Homo sapiens: one gene and its partners. The protein of the gene in region 2 purifies or fractionates together with the protein of the main gene of each other region. This does not show direct contact. Each region holds a gene or a part of one and is shown on either strand. Other genes may lie near its edges. The genes, in order: CHAMP1, ZNF641 and AHCYL2.

Region 1 (3,655 bases), on a different chromosome or scaffold from region 2:
GAGGCAGGAGAATGGCATGAACCCTGGAGGCGGAGCTTGCAGTGAGCCGAGATCGCGCCACTGCACTCCAGCCTGGGCGACAGAGCAAGACTCTGTCTCAAAAAAAAAAAAAGTAAGCAGGCTTAGTGGACTGGACTCCTCTCACTGTTAGGGCAGGATGGTGAGAGAAATACACAGAATTCCATTACAGGGGGCACACACGATCACAGATATAGTTTTGATTACTTTTCTTTTTTTTTTTTTTTTTTTCCAGGTTCAACTTCTCATCTTTGTTCTTCTTCATATACTATAGGCTGTTTGCTGTGGTTTAGTCAAAAAGCCATGTAGAATGCCTGCCTTTTGAAGACCACTTTTAAGGTGTCTAGTAAGACAGCAGGTAAGTCTAGTAGGGAAAGCATGCTTAGGAGAATATTTTATGAGGAGAAAATTAAAAAAAAATACCTGGAGTTCTTGAGGAAAATCTCTAAAAGTGTACACGCCCTTATGGATATAATGTGTGTTGTGTGCTAGATATACATAATTTGGGATATGAGAAGTGAATTCTGTAGCATTCTTTGTAGATTTAAGTATGAGATTGGCCTGAAGAGCTGGTGGTAGGCAGCGGGAAGAGGAGGGATGGCTGGGAGGAATGGGGAATGGTAGGTGAGTCAGACTCAAACCCAGCACACCTGAGCTCTTAGTCTCTGTTGTAATTACAATATGTAATATAGTGCTCTTTAATATTAGCTTGGCTGTTCATTATTGCCAGTTGGGCTGTTCATTATTGCCTCATGGGATTATTGAGACATATCCTACGTTTTCCCCTAAAGTCTTCTAGTTTTATTTAACAATGGGCTCTGAGACGGATGGTTAACCCATTATTTTTCCATGCATTCAATTACGTTTGTAAGTTAAAGATCATTTTCAGAGATTTTTCATCAGTACGGAATTATTTATTTTTCTTTTGTTACAGTCCTGGCCCCAAAACAGTTTTCTAAAATACAGGATAACTGCTGGGCAACTCAGAAAGAGTAAATAGTTTCCGAAGAAAAGTATTTGTTTCCTCAAGTATCTGTCACCTTTTTAGCTTTAGATCAAAAAATAAAAAAGGCAAATGATATACCTTGGATAAAAGTGTTAGGAAGCAGTATTGCCAGTGAGAACATCTTTAAAAACAAATTATCAAAGTTAGAAATGTTAATTTTTTTTTTTTTTTTTTTTTTTGAGATGGAGTCTTGCTCTGTCACCAGGCTGGAATGCAGCGGCATGATCTCAGCTCTCTGCAACCTCCGACTTCTGGTCCAAGCGATTGGCCTGCCTCAGCCTCCCAAGTAGCTGGGACTACAGGCACACGCCACCACGCCTGGCTAATTTTTGTATTTTTAGTAGAGATGGGGTTTCACCATGTTGGCCATGATGGTCTTGATCTCCCGACCTCGTGATCTGCCTGCCCGGCCTCCCAAAGTGCTGAGATTACAGGCATGAGCCACTGCGCCCAGCCTATACATTTTTTTAAAATAATGGTTTTGTAATTAATAAAGGGAGAGCCTGCATTTCTAATCTGTACTGTTCTTTGAGGAGGAGTAAATATCATTACCGTCAATAAGGGAAGGTGTTCAGTCTTTCTCATTAAAGAGAAGCACATTAACACAATAGTGAAATACTAGCTTTCACCTAGGTTGTAGCAAGGATTAGGAATTTATAGGAAATTGTCTCTCATATATACACGTTGTTATGCAGTAATAGAAGTTTTTGAGAGTTTGGTAAAATGTATCAATTTTACACACAAATGGCCAAGTAATCCATTGCTAGGAATTTTCCCTGCAGAAATACCCTCACATGCACAGATAAGTACAGGGAAAGTCAGTGCTTATTCCATATGTAAAAATGTCTTAGAGATAAATTCTAAATGAGAGTAAGTTGCCAGATAATATGTTTAATATCCCATTTGTGTAAAGCATGTGTGTTGATCAATATATGCTTAGGACATTTCTTCCAGGACACATGAGTACACTGGCTACCCCTAGGGACTGACACTCTGTATCTCGTACTGTGTGAATGTGTTTTTAACTGTGAGCTTCTATTCCCTTTACTACTTAAGAAGACTGGTTTACAATTTTTTTAAATTCATGTTTTCCGGCAACTGTGTTCCAGCTGCTGGGGTGTCCTCTGATTTGCCCTTTGGTTGGTATGCGCCTTCACATCATTCAGGATCTCTGCTGGAATGTCCCATGCATAGAGGTCTTTTCCAACGGCCTCTACATCACTCTCCACCTTATCTTTCCAACTCATGAACGCCATATTGCAAAGCACTGCTTTAAGCCTAAGTGCCTAGAACATTGTAGGACACAAAGTTATTTATTTATTAAATGAATTAATAGAATACTATATTGGGATAGATTAAACATTACAAAATATGTTGACATGAAATCAAGCCAGCATCATGTTTTAAAGTCATCTTTTTATAGCTAGATTTAATTTATTAAGTGCTTTCTGCAAAAGTTTTAGTCTCTTGTTCATCCTTAAATAGCCAAGATTTAATTTTGATATTCACTCATCTTTGTGTGCTGAGGACTTTTGTACTCGGAGTTTGAGAGTCAAAGTATAAAGCACATGCAATAGCTAATTCTAGAGTCAGGCTCACATCACTGATAGTCCTATAGCCTGGACCAGAGAAAGTCAGGTAACTTCTCTGAACCTGTTTCTTCATCTGTAAGTGAAAATAATAGTTGAGTCATATCATTAGGATTAAATGAGATGATGTATGTGAAACTCCTAGCAGAGTGCCTGGGACTGTTCTATATCTCCTTTTTCTTCAAATTCTCCCTAGAGATACTATCAAATAAAGCACGCACTGTTCTAGACTTAAAATTATGCAGTTATAGAATGGACTGACAGCATTTTATTCAGAATTACAGTTCATGAAAATAATTTATTCCTACTTTATTGCAGCAGTATTGAAAGTTTTTAAAGAATATAACCGTGTGTGTTGGTAACAGACAGAAGAATGGAAGCATTCCAGGAACTTCGTAAACCATCAGCACGTTTGGAGTGTGACCATTGCAGTTTCAGAGGCACAGACTATGAAAATGTACAAATCCATATGGGTACCATCCATCCAGAATTTTGTGATGAAATGGATGCTGGTGGGCTAGGCAAAATGATATTTTACCAGAAAAGTGCAAAGTTATTTCACTGCCATAAATGCTTCTTCACCAGCAAGATGTACTCTAATGTATACTATCACATCACATCCAAACATGCATCCCCAGACAAATGGAATGATAAACCAAAAAATCAGTTGAACAAAGAAACAGATCCTGTGAAAAGCCCTCCTCTTCCTGAACACCAGAAAATACCCTGCAATTCAGCAGAACCAAAATCCATACCTGCCCTTTCAATGGAAACACAGAAACTTGGTTCAGTTTTGTCTCCAGAATCGCCAAAACCTACTCCTCTTACTCCCCTGGAGCCTCAGAAACCTGGCTCTGTTGTTTCTCCTGAGCTACAGACACCTCTTCCTTCTCCTGAGCCTTCAAAACCTGCCTCTGTTTCTTCTCCTGAACCTCCAAAATCAGTCCCTGTTTGTGAGTCTCAGAAACTTGCCCCTGTTCCTTCTCCAGAACCACAGAAACCTGCCCCTGTATCTCCTGAGTCAGTAAAGGCTACTCTTAGT
Region 2 (3,655 bases):
TGAAGAGGAGCCACAGTCCCTTCAGGAGAAGGGTGAGAACTCACAGAGTGTGTGGGAAGCACAGTGCATAGTCTCCTAATATTTATTCCAAAAGTAGGGTTAAAAATCTCCAAATTGCCATGGACTAAATAGCATAACCTGTACCAGGACCAGCCCATTCTTTCTCAGCCCTGGTCACAGGTACAGAATAGGCTCCTGAATTCAGCAAACCATGCAACTGGGCTTCTCTTGTTTCTTCATAATTACTCCCTCCACATGCAAATGCATAATTAGTGATACTGAATGAGGGAGATGAAGGAAGTGACAGCAACCTGATTACTGTTGGATAACCCACTCAGTAAGATGTAATTTACTAGATGAAAATTACATTCAAGTACTGTAAATTCAAACTATAGCTAGTCTAACTAAAAGCCATCTGATACCCTTTCAGAACATTTTGAGTGATGGCCTTCTCATCTACATTTATGCATTTGAGTTTTACCAATGGGCATAGATACAGAAGTTGTGACCCTTAAGCCTCTCTAAAATGGGGCCCAGGCCCCATTGAGAAAGGGTAGATCGTTATTCTCTAATGTTTCTTCTCTCTCCTTATCAGCTCAGTCTGCTCCCTGGGTTCCTGCAATTCCCCAGGAGGGGAACACTGGAGACTGGGAGATGGCAGCTGCACTTCTTGCGGCTGGATCACAGGTGAGCTCTGCTTCCCTTGGCGTCTCCTGTGGTCCCATCACTGCTGCCTTTGTATTGCTTTCGCATCAGCCCATTGATGAGTTGGCTCACATGATCATCAATGGTATGTTCATCTTATAACTGAATAGATTCTATCCCTTTCCAAGGGGTCATAAGACCCTTGGAAAATTAAATGGACCTACAAGAAAGGGAATTCCTTGAGGTTAGGGTTTTTTTGAGTTTTGTTTTGTTTTTTGTTTTTGAGACAGAATCTCACTGTGTTGCCCTGGTTGGAGTGCAGTGGTATGATCTTGGCTCCCTGCAACCTCCACCTTCTGGGTTCAAGCGATTCTTGTGCTTCAGCCTCCCAAGTAGCTGGGACTACTGGCACACGCCACCACACCTAGCTAATTTTTGTGTTTTTAGTAGAGACAAGGTTTTGCCACGTTGGCCAGGCTGGTCTTGAACTGCTGACGTCAGGTGATCTGCCCACCTCAGCCTCCCAAAGTGCTGGGGTCACAGGTATGAGCCACCGTGCCTGGCCAAGGTTAGGGTTTTTAATGGATGGCTGTGTTTGTTATCCACAGGAGGATTTTAAGAATAATTAATTACCTTCCTTTAAGAAATAAATCTGGAAAGATTAGGAAAAGAGGACCTGAAGAAAGCTTAGAAGAACCTAAAGTGGAAGGATTGGGTAGATGAGGGAGCATTTATGGAAAAGAAGAGGAAGAAGGTTATAAAGAGGGGCAGAGCTAGAAAGGAAATTAGGTTTAGATTCAGAAGGCAATAGGAGAGCTGTGGAAAGCTAATACTAATAGTGTTAGTACTAATAGAGTACACCCCCAGAGTGTTTATCATGTATGCCATTTTCTGGGTGCTTTATGTATATTAACTCATTTAATTCTGAGAACAACTCAGTTATCCAATTTTACAGATGAGGAAATGGGGCAGGGAGAGATTAAGGCACTTGTGTAGGTCATGCTGCAAGAAAGTGGCAAAGCTGAGTCACTTGGCTCCAGATTCTGAGCTCCTAACCACCATACTGTGCTGCCTAAAAATATAAAGATATGGCCAGGCACGGTGGCTCATGCCTGTAATCCCAGCACTTTGGGAGGCCGAGGTGGGCAAATCACAAGGTCAGGAGTTCGAGACCAGCCTGGCCAACATGGTGAAACCCCGTCTCTACTAACACCACAAAAAAAATAGCTGGGTGTAGTGGTGGGTGCCTGTAATTCCAGCTACTTGGGAGGCTGAGACAGGAGAATCGCTTGAACCTGGGAGGTGGAGGTTGCGGTGAGCCAAGATTGTGCTACTGCACTCCAGCCTGGGCGACAGTGAGACTCCGTCTCAAAAAAAAAAAAATGCTGTGGCAAGGGAGGCAAGAAAGAATGTTTTATCTGTAGCATTTTGTGCTGATAGAAAAGGCAGGGTCCAGTGGAAGAAGGAGGAAATGGTACATAATTTCTTCATAAAAAGAGTAAGGCCAGGGAGAAGTGACTGAGTAGACACCTGTAGCTAAACAGAGGTGGTGATGAGTTTATGGTGCCTCCAGCTTCTCATGGCCCCACTTGGGAAATTCCTCCAGTAACATTACACTCACTCACTCCTTGACCATCTACCTTTACTCCTCTCCTCATTTCCCTGTTACCAAAACTATGTGCCCTACCCAGGGACTTCTGGGCAGCTCTTTTCTCAGATCATTTCTCACCCTCTCTCCTCTACTAACTTAGCCTTTCATACTGAATCACATTTTCCTTAAAAAACAGCTGCTGACAGAAGATGCTACATTTTGTTTCAGGGCCTGGTAACCATCAAGGATGTGTCACTGTGCTTCTCTCAGGAGGAGTGGCGGAGCCTGGACCCCTCTCAGACAGACTTTTATGGAGAATATGTCATGCAGGAAAACTGTGGGATAGTAGTCTCTCTGAGTAAGCATGACCTTCTCCAGCCACTAGAAGATTGGACTCTGGGAGGACGGAGCCATCTGCTTCAGGGCTATTGGATAGTGTCTGTCTAGGACTCTTTATGTGGCAGGGAATCTGTCTATGCTTCCGCTGGAGAAAGAACACTAGGGCCAATCCCAAGAGAATGAGAGTAAATATCATTAAAAAAAAAAAAGTAAAAAAGCAAATGATGCTTAATTGTGGAGTAGAACTTGAGGTTCTTCTTGGTTGGGAATTAGGAGGTTCTCATAAAGCAGAGAGAACTGGAACTGGGTCCTTGTAAACTTGGGAACCATGTAGAGGAAGATAGGGATGCAGGGAGTAGGACTGTCGTAGTAGGACTAAAGTGAAGTTACGCCCAGAAAGGCCAGCTGGGCTGGAAGTATCTGAGTGGAAGAAAACAGGTTCATTGGGAAGGAGAGTGATTTTCTAGGCAGAGAAGAGGGACTTAACAGAAATGGGTGGGGGAAGAGGTTGGGGTGGGGATATGTTTCTTTCTTGACCTTCTTTTGTCTAGAGTTCCAAACAATAGGAAACAGTTTTTTGTATTTTTTTTTCAGAAATATAGAATTGCTGTTGAACTAATTGACAGCTCTATTTTCCTTTCCCATGAGCAGGATTTCCAATTCCCAAACTGGACATGCTTTCTCAACTAGAAGGAGGAGAAGAACAATGGGTCCCTGACCCCCAGGACTTAGAGGAGAGGGACATTCTGAGGGTCACATATACAGGTAAGAACCTAGAATAGGCTTTCAGCCACTTCCTTCACAGTTCGGGACATCATCATTCCATGTTCGTTTAATCCCTCCTCTGCCTCAGAGAGTTCCAGAGACAAAAGGTTTAGAGATTTTTTTCTTCAAAAGCAAGGGAGTGTAATAGAATGATGTAGCAGGCACTTTGTGGATTTGAATTCTGGGCTGTAGTTGTGGGACCTTGGAAAAGTAATAAAACTCCCTTTGGTTTCTTCATCTGTAAATTATTGTGAAAATTAAATATATGAATATATTAGAATATTAGAATAGAACAGTGCCAAGCACATAATAAGC
Region 3 (3,655 bases), on a different chromosome or scaffold from region 2:
TGGTGCTAGGTGGCTAGAGAAGCTTCAGTTTGCTCCATGGTTTGGAATTTTAGAGGAAGCATTTTTTTTTTTCCGAGTGTTTTTTATTCTGTCATTCCAGCGGCTTCATATACAGATAGCTCTGATGATGAGACATCGCCCAGGGACAAGCAGCAAAAGAACTCTAAGGGAAGCAGTGACTTCTGTGTTAAGAACATCAAACAGGCAGAGTTTGGACGAAGAGAAATTGAAATTGCTGAACAAGGTAAAGAAAACAAGCACCTTTTCCTTCTTAACCTACCTGTGTCTTTTTGTCCATATTAATCCCTTTTTATGTCTGGGGTCTGGTAGCTTGTGAAATTTCTATGTGATAAGAATACTTATAACAAAAGAAATGTGAGTTCAAGAAACACTGGGGAAATCTGGCAAGTCTAGAAGGAACCCTGTATTAAAAAAAAAAAAAAAAAAGGGAGAGAGACTGGATAAGGACTGGAATATAGAGAATCAGAACCCTGGAGCATTTGCCTCCAAAAGCCCTTTATAAAGGAAAATACAGGTTTAATGTCTTGATCCCTGGAGAAACCTAATCTAACCTGATCAGGGGAAGGATCTTAACTTAAGAAAACAAGTTTTTCTGTTTGTTCTTTTATCTCTTATTCCTTCTTCTTTAATATTGCTGTATTTATTGGGCCTTTTCAGAAATGCCTGCATTGATGGCTTTGAGGAAGAGAGCTCAAGGAGAAAAGCCTTTGGCTGGAGCCAAAATCGTGGGTTGCACACACATCACTGCTCAGACTGCTGTGAGTTCTTTTCTTTTCTCCTTTTAATTACAATAGTTAATAATAGCCACGAGCTACTGAAAGCTTACAACATGCCAAGCACCGAGTTAAGAGCTTAACAAGTATTAGCTTATTAATCCTTATAATGGCCATATAAAGCAGGTATTCTTGTTTCCATTTTATAAACGAAGAAGCTGAGGCTCAGAGGGCTTAAGATATTTGTTTAAGGTTATACAGCTAGAAATCACAGAGTCAAGATTTTAACTTCAATATACAGTAGTCCCCCTGCCTTGTCTGTGGGGGATAAGTTTCAAGACCCCTAGTGGACACCTGAAACTTCAGACAGTACTGAACCCTATATATACTATGTTTTTTCCTATACATATATACCTATAATCAAGTTTAATTTATGCAATTGGCCCTGCATGTCCACCAGTTCTGCTTCCTGAGGATTTGACCAACTGCAGATCAAAAATATTCAGAAAATAAAATAATACAACAATACAAAATAACAAGAAATATAACAACTATTTACATAGCATTTACACTGTATTGGGTACTATAAATAACCTAGAGATGCTTTAAAATATACAGAAGGATGTGCACAGATTATATGCAAACACTGCATCATTTTATATAAGGGACATGAGCATCCTCAGATTTTGGTATCCATGGGAGTGCTGGAATAAATCCCCTGAGGATACTGAGAGACAGCTATAAATTCAGCACAGTAAGAAATGAACAACAGTAACTCAAAATAAAAGAGAGCAATTACAACAACAGACTGTAATAAAAGTTATGTCACATAAAGGAATTTATCACAGTACATAGCAGAAAGTCCAAAGGGAAGGCAGACTTCAGATGCAGGATCTCAGGGCTCCAGCTTCACCTCTCTGATTCTCTTGGAGCTGCCTCCTCAGTATGCTTACTTCACCCTAAAGCTGATAGCAAGATGCTTACAACTATTCTAGTCATCACAAACTGACATGAAAAGGAAGAGGGACCATTTCTTCCTCACTCAAGAGAAGTCCCTCCAGGATACTCCATCGTGTCTCATTGGGCAGAACTGGATCATGTATCTGTGCTCCACCAGTCCTACCGAGGGGCGTGGAATTACCATGATTTGCTTACACCAGTGATTCCTACCTTACTCTCATCAGTTTTAATGTCCCCTTTTTATTAAAAAACTTTTTTTTTGCAGTGTCCCTGAACTATCCTGAAATGAAATTCAGATATAACATGTCCAGGTACATATAATCTTTAAAAATAAATCAATATAAAATCTTAACTGAAATATGAAGGAGGAATAAAAAAAGTACAATACTTAAAATAATGTGTATTTCAATATGTAAATACTTGAGGACAACTATAGTAGAACAATCAGATATTTGTACTATTTCACAGTATTATTTGAAATAGTATTATTTGAAGACAGAAATAAATGTGTTATTGATTCCAGAGCATCAGAGCAGCATTGCCATGATTTTCTGAAATAGTAAACAACTTTTTGTAATCTTCTAAACAATAAGAACAACAAAAAGTATGAGTTTTCTCTTCATTTACATAGCTGTTACATTCCTGGAAAAACTATTGTTTTGTATTAAAACTACAAAACTACTTTTTGCTAATTTGTAAAGTGGAATTAGGTTCTAAACTCAGATAATTGTAGATAGGTTTTTCACCCATGGGAACTTTTATTGGGACATTTGAAAATTGTACCAGCTGCAACACAGTTTTTTGTTGAGACACTTTCAAAATGTCCAGATTCCTGGTCCTGCCCACTAAATGCCAATAGCACTCCCCTTCCAATTATTGTGGCAACCAAAAATGCCCCCACAATTTTCTAGATCTCCTCTTTTATCACCAGAGATGCAATATATATGGAGTTGCTAACCATAATGAGACCACTATCGGGAAATTGTTATATTGAGCAGTGGTCTGGAATCTTTTATGGGGATTCATAAGATCTGGGTCATCTGTGTGGCTAGATCAGCTTTCCAAAGATTGTCTCTCCCAAAGCACAACACTTATGTGGTCACATTCCTGATTAAGAACATTAGAGATTCCTCAAGGTACAGACAGCTTCTATTAGCATCTTCACTATGAAACTTTTCTGGGTTATGTGTTCTCTGAGGACAAGAGTACCCTGACTGCTCAAAATTAATATAATAAATTGAAAAGCTATCTGTTTTGGAGCTACAAACTAATGAATCAAGACAGAAACACTCTTGAATCTTTTTTGGCCTGCTCAGTCAGCGACATGAGACTTCAGTGTGGTAGCTTAAAATAGTAAGTGCTTCTCTACTGTCTCATGTTGCTGAATTACATCTAGTTTGTTTTTTACCCTTAGGCTCAGTGAGCATTACCACCTTTCATGGTTCCCTTTCTATTTTTTTCCTGAATGGATTGATCACAATTAGCTTACCAATTTTAATATTAATTTATTGTTTCCACCCCACATTTTTTTCCTTTAAAAAAATAACGACAAAGAAATTATGCTTTGTTTGCCAACCTAATACTCTTTCACTCTTGTCTTAGTTCATTTGGGCTGCTATAACAAAATACCTTAGACTGGGTAATTAATAAACAATAGATATTTATTGTTCACAGTTCTGGAGGCTAGGAAGTCCAAGATCAAGGCGCCAGCAGATTCAGTATCTGGTGAGGGCCTGTTCCTTATAGATGGCGCTTTCTATGTGCCCTCACATGGCCAAAGGGGCAAGCAAGCTTCCTCAGGCTTGTTTTATAAGTACACTAATCCCATTTGTGAGGGCAGAAATCTCATGTCTAATCACCTTCCAATCACTTCCATAATCACCTTTTAATACCATCGCCTAGGGGGTTAGTTTTTAACATATGACTCTGGGGGAGGAGAACATACATTCAGACCATAGCAA

What was found.
Region 1: the proteins of ZNF641 (region 2) and CHAMP1 purify together in Homo sapiens (affinity purification with mass spectrometry; one large-scale study listed by BioGRID and IntAct). This does not show direct contact.
Region 3: the proteins of ZNF641 (region 2) and AHCYL2 purify together in Homo sapiens (affinity purification with mass spectrometry; one large-scale study listed by BioGRID and IntAct). This does not show direct contact.

The regions. Positions count from the first base shown.
Region 1 is NC_000013.11:114,320,857-114,324,511, forward strand, and holds part of CHAMP1 (chromosome alignment-maintaining phosphoprotein 1), read left to right. Parts: intron 1-253; 5' UTR 254-376; intron 377-1,206; exon of another isoform or gene 1,207-2,931; 5' UTR 2,932-2,986; coding exon 2,987-3,655. UniProt on the Homo sapiens protein: Required for proper alignment of chromosomes at metaphase and their accurate segregation during mitosis. Involved in the maintenance of spindle microtubules attachment to the kinetochore during sister chromatid biorientation.
Region 2 is NC_000012.12:48,344,284-48,347,938, reverse strand, and holds part of ZNF641 (zinc finger protein 641), read left to right. Parts: coding exon 1-32; intron 33-595; coding exon 596-687; coding exon of another isoform or gene 688-790; intron 791-2,464; coding exon 2,465-2,594; intron 2,595-3,226; coding exon 3,227-3,340; intron 3,341-3,655. UniProt on the Homo sapiens protein: Transcriptional activator. Activates transcriptional activities of SRE and AP-1.
Region 3 is NC_000007.14:129,388,956-129,392,610, forward strand, and holds part of AHCYL2 (adenosylhomocysteinase 3), read left to right. Parts: intron 1-100; coding exon 101-244; intron 245-678; coding exon 679-779; intron 780-3,655. UniProt on the Homo sapiens protein: May regulate the electrogenic sodium/bicarbonate cotransporter SLC4A4 activity and Mg(2+)-sensitivity. On the contrary of its homolog AHCYL1, does not regulate ITPR1 sensitivity to inositol 1,4,5-trisphosphate.